Regions from separate parts of the Homo sapiens genome. Here region 2 is linked to region 1. The links come from fine-mapping of genetic effects on gene expression. A gene starts in region 1. The other region holds a variant in brackets. All regions are shown on one strand. Distances are from middle to middle.

The links.
Region 2: its variant is fine-mapped to the expression of DHX35 in whole blood (TOPMed, PIP above 0.99).

Annotation. Positions count from the first base shown.
Region 1 is chr20:38,959,910-38,965,287 of GRCh38, reverse strand. It overlaps DHX35 (DEAH-box helicase 35), which reads right to left and starts at 2,944. Exons shown (of 22, transcript NM_021931.4): 1 at 2,881-2,944. The coding sequence starts at 2,920. RefSeq lists an enhancer at 2,610-2,919 and a silencer at 2,960-3,079.
Region 2 is chr20:39,008,160-39,013,537 of GRCh38, reverse strand. DHX35 (DEAH-box helicase 35) reads right to left here. Exons shown (of 22, transcript NM_021931.4): 13 at 3,134-3,258. Among named protein-coding and RNA genes, the nearest start is that of DHX35, 49 kb to the right of the region's middle. The variant T/C (reference allele first, on the strand shown) is at 2,972.

The sequences.
Region 1 (5,378 bases):
ACTGTCATCACAGAGATACTGTGACTGTTTAATAAGATGTGTAAATGAAAGTGACTAACACAAAGCAACGGCCCAATAACTGTGTACTAAAGCTATTCCCATGTCAACTAATGACAACACAATTTACCTAGACCAGTGGTTCCCAAATTTTGATGCATGCTGGAATTCCTTAGAGACTTTAAAAAACACTGATGCCTGGCTCCTAGGCCTCCAAAGTTCTAATTTATTGGTGTGAGGTGCAAGTGCACATCAGGACTTTTCAGAGCTTCCCAAGTGATTCAACTATAAAGCAAAATTAGAGAATCACTAACCTAGACAGTCACCCAGCCCAGAAATCTGAGTTATTACTGACTTCATCTTCTCCCACATCTTCCTCTAAAATGTCTCTCCAACAGGCACCTCCTCTAAGCTCCCAGGTCAGAATTAAGGTTTTTAACATCCCTCCTGGATTTCACTAGTACCTTCTCTAATTTCCTCCTCCATCCACTCTCTACTCCACTGCCAGTGTTATCTTTCTAAAGTAAACCTGATTTGTTCCTGCTTAAAAACACTGAAGTCAGGCCAGGCCCAGTGGCTCACGCCTGTAATCCCAACACTTTGGGAGGCCGAGGTGGGCAGATCACGGGATCAAAAGATTGAGATCATCCTGGCCACCATGCTGAAACTCCATCTCTACTAAAAATACAAAAATTAGCTAGGTGTGGTGGCACACACCTGTAGTCCCAGCTACTCAGGAGGCTGAGGCAGGAGAATCGCTTGAACCTGGGAGGTGGAAGTTCCAGTGAGCCGAGATTGCGCCACTGCACTCCAGCCTGGGCGGCTGAGCCAGACTCCATCTCAAAAAAAAAAAAGAAAGAAAACAAAAAAACAGTGAAGTCTAAACTTTTTAACTTGTCATGAAGACCTTTCACAATGAGGCCCTTACCTACTTTTCTAGCTTCATCTCCTGTCATACCCCAAAATATACCCTAGCACTTAACACTATCACACTGCTCTGTTATTTTGGCTTTCTGGACATTCTAAAGGCACAAATCCCATTCTGCCTTTGTTCATGCTGCACCCTTTGCTTCGAGTTCCATTTCTCTATGAAACAAAACCTTATTCATCCTTTAATGTTCACTCCAAAAATACCACCTTAATGAAGTATTTCTTATCCATACATTCAACTTTCCCTCCCTCTTCCATACTTCCATATAATTATAATAGTAACCTATCTAGTGCCAAGATCCTGTTGTGTGTTATTCTCATTTAAACCTCACAACACTACTTTGGGTAGGGTAGGTATTATACCCAATTTACAGATGGAGTAACTGAGACTTTGAGAATTTAAGTGACTATCAAGTCATCAACTTAGTAAGTGGTAGACATGATGGGCACTGCAGTCTGACTCTAGAGCTCATCTTCTTTACCACCACCTTACTCTGTCTCATTGTAAAATCTCTTCTAGAGGACATCTAACTTTATATTCAATTAAGAGAGAGACAGTAACTTGAGAGCAGAGCCCTGAGCATCTGTATTTGTCTCCTGAACACAGGATTAGGTTTTCAATAAGTGTACCCTCAATGGATGAACTAAATAATGAAATAGAACTCTTAAGAGTAATTCCACGTTCTTTAACCAAAATAGTACCCTGGTCTGATTTCAAACAATTAATTCAGCTCTTTATTATACCTAACACTTTCACCTGTTACTAAAAGCGTGAATAAATTAAAAGTATTCATTACTTAGTAAGTTCCTAGTTTTGGATGCAAATAAAACTCAGGATGGATAATTGGCTGATGACTTGAAATGCTGAACCATAAAACTGTCAAGTGACAGACTACAAATTTTTAAAAAGCATTAAACATATCTCTTGCTTGGGTTTATCTCTCACATCACTTATATGCATGGTCAGAATTTCAGAGAACCACTGAAAAATTAAAAGCTTTGCTTATATTACATTCTTGGTGTCATTTCATTTTTGCTGCAATATACTTTGCACATCCAGACCTGCAGGGGTGCAGGTGGTAGAAAAAAATCAAGCTGGTAGCTGTAATTTAAAAACTTTTGTTTTTTACAAGAAACTGTTTGCAGAGAGGAAGTAATGCATCTAGTACGGTCTGGCATATGCACATTCAGTAAAAACCTGATTAATGAGTAAATATCAAGACAAAACAAGTAAAGCATTTTGTGATTGTGATTCGTGTTAGTCTGTAAGAGAGGAAGTGGCTGGCAGCCAATATGAAGGACTGTTCCCTTTTCTAGTAGACATTCGGAGTGGACAACAATTATCCTAAAAGAAAATAACACACTTTCCCTTTTTTTGAGCATTTATTCTAAGTCTGACAACGCGTTCTGCTTGTCATTTAAGCCCACAGCATAGAAGCTATTGTTCTGCCCACTTTACAGGTAAAGAAGTCATGGCTCAGAGGCATTAAGTGACTCGCCCAAGGTCACCCTACTACAAGGCAGAGACGAAAATTCGAACCCGGACAGTCTGACTCCATAACTTGGGCTTGCAAGCCTCCAGCAGCGAGCAGCATTGTCTGTCGGGCCACAGCGCAACCCCAGGGCGCTAACGAGACACGAGAGGGAGCTTTAGGATTCCCCATCTCGCGGGGTGGGCAGGACAAGCATCAGTAACGAGGAAGACGAGGCCTGAGGAGGCTGGACCACTTTAACAAGGTCACAAAGAGTTTCTGCTCACGCTAGGGGAGCACCCCCAAATCCCTCGGGACCACTGGGGAGCCTGAGCCAGAGCTCCCCCCGCACAGAGGCGGCAGCGCCCAGCTCGCCGAGGTCAGGCCTGCGAGCAGGTCTGCTGGCCCCAGGGCGCCGGCCGCGGCGCCAAGACCGAAGTCAGGCCGCCGCATCTGCCCAGCGTTCCACCAAGGGCCTTACCGGGTCGCCAGAACTTCACCGGTCCCACGGGCGCAGCCATGTTGGGGTAAAAGGTCACGAGGCTAGCTCCACCCCACCGTCGCGCGCTAGGCCCCCAGGGCCCGGAGGGCGTGGCCCCCGAAGAGCCGCTGCCCAGACGGATCGCGCCGTGTGACGGCCACGCCCCCACAGCTACCGCCCCCGTCTGAGCCACGTGACCCACTTCCAGGCTCCGGCGAGCGCACCGGCCCCGCCCCCGAGCCCACGTGACCCTGCTCAGCCATTTTGGAGAAAAGGGCGCGCTCCTCCGCCTACCTCTTGAGCGTGGAGGGTAGATGCTTCAGGTGACCTTTTACGAGCGTGGCGTGTCCTGGATGGCGGCCGCACACTTAGGAAGAACGGGCTTTGGGAGAGGACCGCTGGCCCGAGAGTGGAACCTTGCACGCACTGGGCGTTGAAGCAGTGCTTTCTGGATTAAATACGAAATACTGATGTCACAAGCTACCTCAACTTGTCGACTTCTGTTTTATTCTCAATTTCAAATTGAAGGGTAATAATAGGAACTACCTCGTGGGTTGTATTTGTCAGTAAATATTGCGCGCCTGCTGTGGGCCCAGGTAGTGCGGCACAGTGCCCCAAATAAAACAATGCGAAATGATATGGAAGTCTTCAGGGACCTTGAGGGCAAAACGGAAAAACGGACTGGGGGTGGGGTGGAGCGAATGGGTTGGCAGAAGAGACTGAAAATGGGTAGATCAATTAAGGTAGTCCACCAACTCAGTGCTTCCTCCAATTTGATACCCTTGAGTCAAATGCTTGTTAAAAACACAGATTCTAGGCCTTGATCCAATTCTGAATCGATGTCCTGGAGCATGGCTTGGGAACCTGCATTTTGAGAAGCTCCTGAATTCTTCAGATTAACAAATTTGGGAAAGATTACACTAATCCATCAGACGAAAGGTGAGGTCAAAGAAAAAGAAATTACAGTAATCCAAAGGAGCGCTAAGAAGGGGTGATGAGCTCAAGTGGAGGAAATAACTTTCTAGGTAGGCAACTAATTGGAAGGAAGTGAGAGGCTTCAGAATCTATGCATTTTTAAAGCTGTGAAGAAAATTCTGAATTCTTTGAAAGAAGTGGCATCATTATGGCAAGAGCAGGGGCTTTTGTGGACAACCAGTCCAGACTTGGAATCGTAACTTTGCCATTTCCTAGCTCCTAGCTGTCATTTAATTTTAGTTGTAAAATGAGGTTTAAAGAGGTATTACATGAGATAACATGTAAAGTACCTAACAGTGCAAAACATAGCAGGCACTGAATCAATGTTAGCTCTCATTACCTCAACTCAGAGCAAATCCACCAGGGGGAAAAAAATCTGAATTTACCTGCATAGGTTCATGTAAGAATCTTCTTTGATTTATTTTTATAGTAATTAATGTAGGGACTCAATATCTGTTAGTCCCTCGGCCTAGAATTCTCCATCCATCCTTTAAATTATCTTTATCCCTTAAAGGGCTAGCTCTAAATTATCTATCCAACTTAAACATTCCCCCTTGTAGTCTAGGAACTGTATTCTCACTTTTGTGAGAAAAGTGACCTGTAGTTTAGTTGCCTGTAGTTTACCTGCCGCCACTATTACACAGGGAACTTACTGAGGACGAGGACCATGTCACATTCACATTCGTGGCCCAGTAACAAGTGCCTATTGAGTGTAGATAAACATCATGCTTTAGGCTTAGTTTTAGTTGATCTGTAGTTTACCTGCCGCCACTATTACACAGGGAACTTACTGAGGACGAGGACCATGTCACATTCACATTCGTAGCCCAGTAACAAGTGCCTATTGAGTGTAGATAAACATCATGCTTTAGGCTTAGTTTTAGTTGATCTGTAGTTTACCTGCCGCCACTATTACACAGGGAACTTACTGAAGACAAGGACCATGTCAGCATTCACATTCACATTCACATTCGTAGCCCAATAACAGTGCCTATTGAGTAATGTATAGATAAACATCATGCTTTAGGCTTAGTTTTAGTTGATCTGTGGTTTACCTGCCGCCACTATTACACAGGGAACTTACTGAGGACGAGGACCATGGCACATTCACATTCGTAGCCCAGTAGCAGTGCCTATTGAGTAATATACAGATAAACATCATGCTTTAGGCTTAGTTTTAGTTCTTCATGACATTGATTTTTCCTTGTTTTATTTTTGTCTTATTTTACTAACAGCCCAAATACGGAAACCAAGGTTTATACATGAATATAAGGCAAAATGAAATAAATGCCACTTTTAAGATTATTTCATGGCCTGGCACGGTGGCTCACACCTGTAATCCCAGCACTTTGGGAGACTGAGGCAGGCAGATCAACTGAGGTAAGAGTTCGAGACCAGCCTGGCCAACATGGCGAAATTCTGTCTCTACTAAAAATACAAAAAAATTAGCCGGGTGTGGTAGTAGTCACCTGTAATCCCAGCCAGTTGGGAAGGTGAGGCAGGAGAATCCCTTGAACCCGGAA
Region 2 (5,378 bases), 48 kb before region 1:
CATAGTATTTTCATCTAATCACATTCACTAGTATTTCTCTGTGACCTCAACTGATTTGGGATAATACAGAAACACTGTTTTAACATATCTGGAATTACTGTTTATGTATAGTTTTAGTGTGGTCTTCTCACTACATGTTTTTCTGTTTTCATTGTTTCTTGCACCCATACAAACTTCACAGTAACTACTTGGGATGGCTGCATAATACTCTATGACAATCATACTCCATAAAAAAGTCAATTTTCTTATTGCTGGGCAATTAAATTGTTCCAGTTTTTCACCATTGTAAATAACATTGCTAAATATACAAAATTATATGTACTCTGTAATTTCAATCATAAAAACCACAATTTCAGGGGATAATAACCAGAAGGAAATATGTGAAGATAAATTTGTATTTTTTTTTTCATTTTTCAACTGTCCAAAAGTTTTACGATAATTTTCATTATTTATATTTTTAAATGTAATATAAATGCTATAAGCATTATCACATATGTAAGCTTTTTTTCTTCTTCTGAATTATTTTTTCAGGAGAAATTTTTATGAGAAGAAATAGCAGACATTTCTACGGCTCATTAAATGTTGTCAGAAAGTCCTCCATGGGGACAGAAACGGTATAACATGGGAGGAATTTACTTTCCCAAATTGTGGCAGTTTTCGATTTCACCATTTTTGTTTATACTCAATCATTTAATTAGTGTAAAGTCAACTGCGCACAGTGGCTCACACCTGTAATCCCAGCACTTTGGGAGGCCAAGGTGGGCAGATCACCTGAGGTCAGGCGTTCAAGACCATCCTGGCCAACATGGCAAAACCCCGTCTCTACTAAAAATACAAAAAATTAACCGAGCATGGTGGCTCTTTCCTGTAGTCCCAGCTACTTGGGAGGCTGAGATACGAGAATCACTTGAACCCAAGAGGCAGAGGTTGCAATGAGCTGAGATCGCACAACTGCACTCCAGCCTGGGTGACAGAGAGAGACTCTGTCTCAAAAAAAAAAAAAATTAGTGTAAAGTCATCCTTTATAGCTATATCAACGTGCAGTCACCTCTCTCCTAGAGAAGCTCAACATGTCCTAATGATAGTTGAAATTTGAATTTGTGCTGTTTTTTTCCTTTAGCTTTATTTAGTGAATATTTACTGTAAATGATGTGCATATAAAAACTCTTCATATTTTTTGAGATACTGATCTGTCATTTCTGTCACTGTATGTTTTTCTTTAATTTTACATGCGGGGCTTTTCATAAGCTTTCAAATCAGCACATACTGTTTATCTTTTCTTTTTTTTTAAGAAAGAGTCTCACCCTATTGCCCAGGCTGGAGTGCAGTGGCACAATCTCAGCTCACTGCAACCTCCACCTCCCGGGTTCAAGCGTTTCTCCTGCCTCAAGCCTCCCAAGTAGCTGGGACTACAGGCGCATGCCACCATGCCTGGCTAATTTTTGTATTTTTAGTAGAGACGGGGTTTCACCATGTTGGCCAGGCTGGTCTTGAAGTCCGGACCTCAAGTGATCCACCTGCCTCGGCCTCCCAAAGTGCTGGGATTACAGGCATAAGCCACCACGCTCAGCCTGTTTATCTTTTCTTTATAATATCTTCTACTCTACACCAATAATCAAAGGGTCCATTTTCCCTATACTTATGGTAAGTACACAATTTTCTTTGGGGGAGTTGATATTTGTATGTTCTATTCTTTCATTCACCTAGTTTACCATCACATATGACATTAGGGACTTTACTATCCAAGAATCCAGACTTTCCAGACTTGTCATATCATATACAGTTGGGAAAAAACAAAGTTCTCAAATCATAAAAATTCTAGAAGAAAATATGAGAGAATATGTATTAACTGACCCAAATATAAGAAGTACTTCATAAGGGCAAGAATAACCAAAGAGGCCGGGGGTGGTGGCTCACGCCTATAATCCTAGCACTTCGGGAGGCCCAGACGGGGTGGATCACCTGACCTGCTCAGGAGTTTGAGACCAGCCTGGTCAACAAGGCAAAACCTTGTCTCTACTAAAAATATAAAAAATTAGCCAGGCGTGGTGGCACACACCTGTAATCCCAGCCACTCAAGAGGCTGAAGCACAAGAATCACTTGAGCCTGGGAGGCAGAGGTTGCAGTGAGCCAAGATGGCACCACTGCACTCCAGCCTGGGCTACAGAGTGAGACTGTCTCAGAAAATAAAGAAAGAAAAAAAGAATAGCCAAAGAAATCATAAAGGCAAAAATAGATTACTGTGAATATGTTTAGAATGTCCACACATTAAAAAAAAAACAGTAAAATATAAATAGAAAATATTTGTAAGAAATATTATAAAAATTAATGTCTTTAATATTCAAAGGACTCTTGAAAATCACTAACTGACACAAATTCTAACAGATAAATAGCTTAACAACTCAGAAGAAATAAAAACTGACTAATAAATGTTTTTATAAAAATCTATCTTATGAAAAATTTAAAAATAATTATAATAAAGGTGATTTCCTCTCTCTGGCCAATCAAATCAGCAAACCCAAAGAAGATAACATGGCACAATGGAAGTACCACAAGGTGGGCATTCAGGCACTGCTAGAGTTGACATTGGTAAAGCAATCTGGCCATGTAACAGGACCCTAAACAGGACAACGGCCCTTTGACCCAGTCATTCTACTCCTAGAAATCATCTCAGGAAGCAATCAGGCACAAGGGTCTTCCTGCAGCTCTATCTAAAGCTGCAGGAAGGATCCCCCAATCATGGTACTCCTGCATCTAGGCCTCTACAAAGACTAGCTGTCCTGGAACTCTCCACTCCTAACCTGGTGAGATTCTATTTGGGTTTCAGGTTTCACCTGGGAGGCCCTTCCTTTGTCTCTCAGAGCCCTGGGCACACTGCTCTGTAATTACCCACTTACTTGTCTCTATTCCCCAGCAGACAAGAACAGGAACTATGTAAGAATAGGAATTGAGGCTACCTTGTCTGGCTGT[T/C]TTCCCCTACGTCCTGCACAGGGCCTGGTTGCAAAGCAGACACACAACACATGACCTGAGTAGGGAAAAAAAGGAAAGATGGCATGCCCTACGACAATGTCCTGACATCCCCCTGTGAGCTCCCTAGCCTCCCTATGGCCCCAGACAGCAGGCAGGACTTACCGACATGAAGTGGAACCTGAGGACATTGTCAATTCCTAGTGCTTTCAGCTGCAGGATGACAGGTGCCAAATTACTACGCTGCATCTCAGGAACCGTAGACTGAGGCAACTTGTCAAAGGCTTCCTCTGAGGATAGGAAATCAGAACTGTTTGGGACCAAATGTCACAATCAAATGCAATCACTATGCCAAGGGACAAATTTTCTTCTCTATCTTGAACAAGGGTCTCTAGGATTCTAGAAGCAGATGCACATGATACCATGATATAAAGTTATTTTTATACTTAGGAAAGACCATTCTATTTTTAAAATGCCTTAGATAAATATATTTGAATACACCTTTATAAAACTTTATCTAAAATTCTGTTTTTTAATGTTTTTTGTCAGCAAAACATTAAATCAAACCAACAAGTACTTGCTGAATCACTATCAGTTCCCAGTTGCCACCATCTCTGTTTGGAATAAGTCAAGGAAGCAAGAGCTTCACATACAAGCAAAGAACAATTTCAAGATAAATCACCAAAATACAACAAATGACCAAATCTTATAAAGAGCAAAAATTGTCCAAATCAAATTTTTAAATCAACAAGCCAGGTACACAATATCATTCCCAGAATCCAATGCTGCCCCAAACCAAGAAATGAATGTTTACATGCCCTACCAGGAAGAAGAGGTGACCTTACACAGGAAAAAGCATCCTAAGACACAGAGATCCCAAGACAGGAAGGGCAGAAAGGGAGGGGGAAGGAGAAGAGACTTTGGAAGAAGGCCTTTTTATAAAAGCTAGGCAGGAAGGGTGGGGAAAAAAGAGGAAGAGATTAACTCATTTTCATGTATATTCAGAAAGCTTAAGGATTATATAGAGAATGCTCCACCCACCAAAACCTCCCACATCAGTCAACATTGTAACTGATGTACACCCTTCTTAAACAATACAAGGGTGACCCAACTTCCATTTAGATCATAAAGCTTTAGTTAACTAGAGGAAAAAAAAAAAAGTGCCATGAAGAAATACCACTATCCCCGAAAAACTTCAGAAAGGTTTTCTTTGAGAAAACAGACAACCAATATTCTGTGGACTAATTGATACAAATTGGGTCTAACTAGAAGGTTCTGGATGACGGCCAACAGCAGGAAGTTCCAAATGAGCTACTTCCTTTAGTTTCAAGAGAATTTGGGGTACAGCTTCTTGATAGGATAACCCCATTTTCCAAGCACACTACTAACCAAAGGAGAAACAAAGTTAACACATAAGAGGACCACCCTGCTGAAAAGCTCACAGGAAGTGGGTGTTTCCTAAAAGTTCAATGACAGGCAAGCTCTCCTGAGGACTCAAGTGTGTGAAGCATGGGGCCAGAAGCTGTAGGAGTCACAGCCAATCCCCTTGAAAAGCTTCAGTGATATGCAGGGGCCTGGGACCTGGACCAGAAACAGTTGACCCTCAAGGAGAAATAGGAAAAGTCCCAAGGAGTGGTCCTCCCAAAGAGAAATGGAGGCTCAGGGAAGGAGGAAGCAGGGTGGCTGGAAGAAGGCCTCCAGGGAAGCTGCATGTTGCCATTTGAGGGAGGATTTGAAGGACAAGGAGGATCTGTTGGGCAAAGAGGAAACAGCTCAAGGAAAAGGTATCTAAGCGTTTCTCATGCAGAGAGCATGTCGTGTAGTAGTTCAGCTGAGAAGCAATTTGTAGTGGTTAGTAGGAGAAGATAAGCTGAGGAAAAATCCTGGATGGTTTGAGAAAATGTGGAGGGTCTGAGCAGGTGGTACCCTGTTCAAAGCAATACTTTCTGGAGGCTCCTGTGGAGGCCTAGAGGCTGGACACCAATGCACTCATTACAGTCAGGGGCCCTCCCCAACCCCACTTCCACTAAACTGCTCATGCAAAGGGATTCAGTGACTTTTCACCCAAATCCACCTGCCTATCTTTAGTCCATGATTTCTTGGCACATGAGATAATGCTGGCCTCTTTAAAAGTAACTTGAGCTCCTTAAAAGTTAAACAAAATTACATATAACCCTGTAATAGCCAAAACGAATTAAAAACACCTACTCAAGTACATGTACATGCAGGTTCATACCAGCACTATTCACAATAGCCAAAAGGCAAAAACAGCCCAAATGTCCACAACTAATAAATGAATAAACAAAGTGTGGTTTATCTATACAACAGAATATTAGTCAGTAATAAAAAGGAATGAAGTACATGCTACAATGTAGATAAGCCTCAAAACCATTATGCTAAAAGAAGCCAG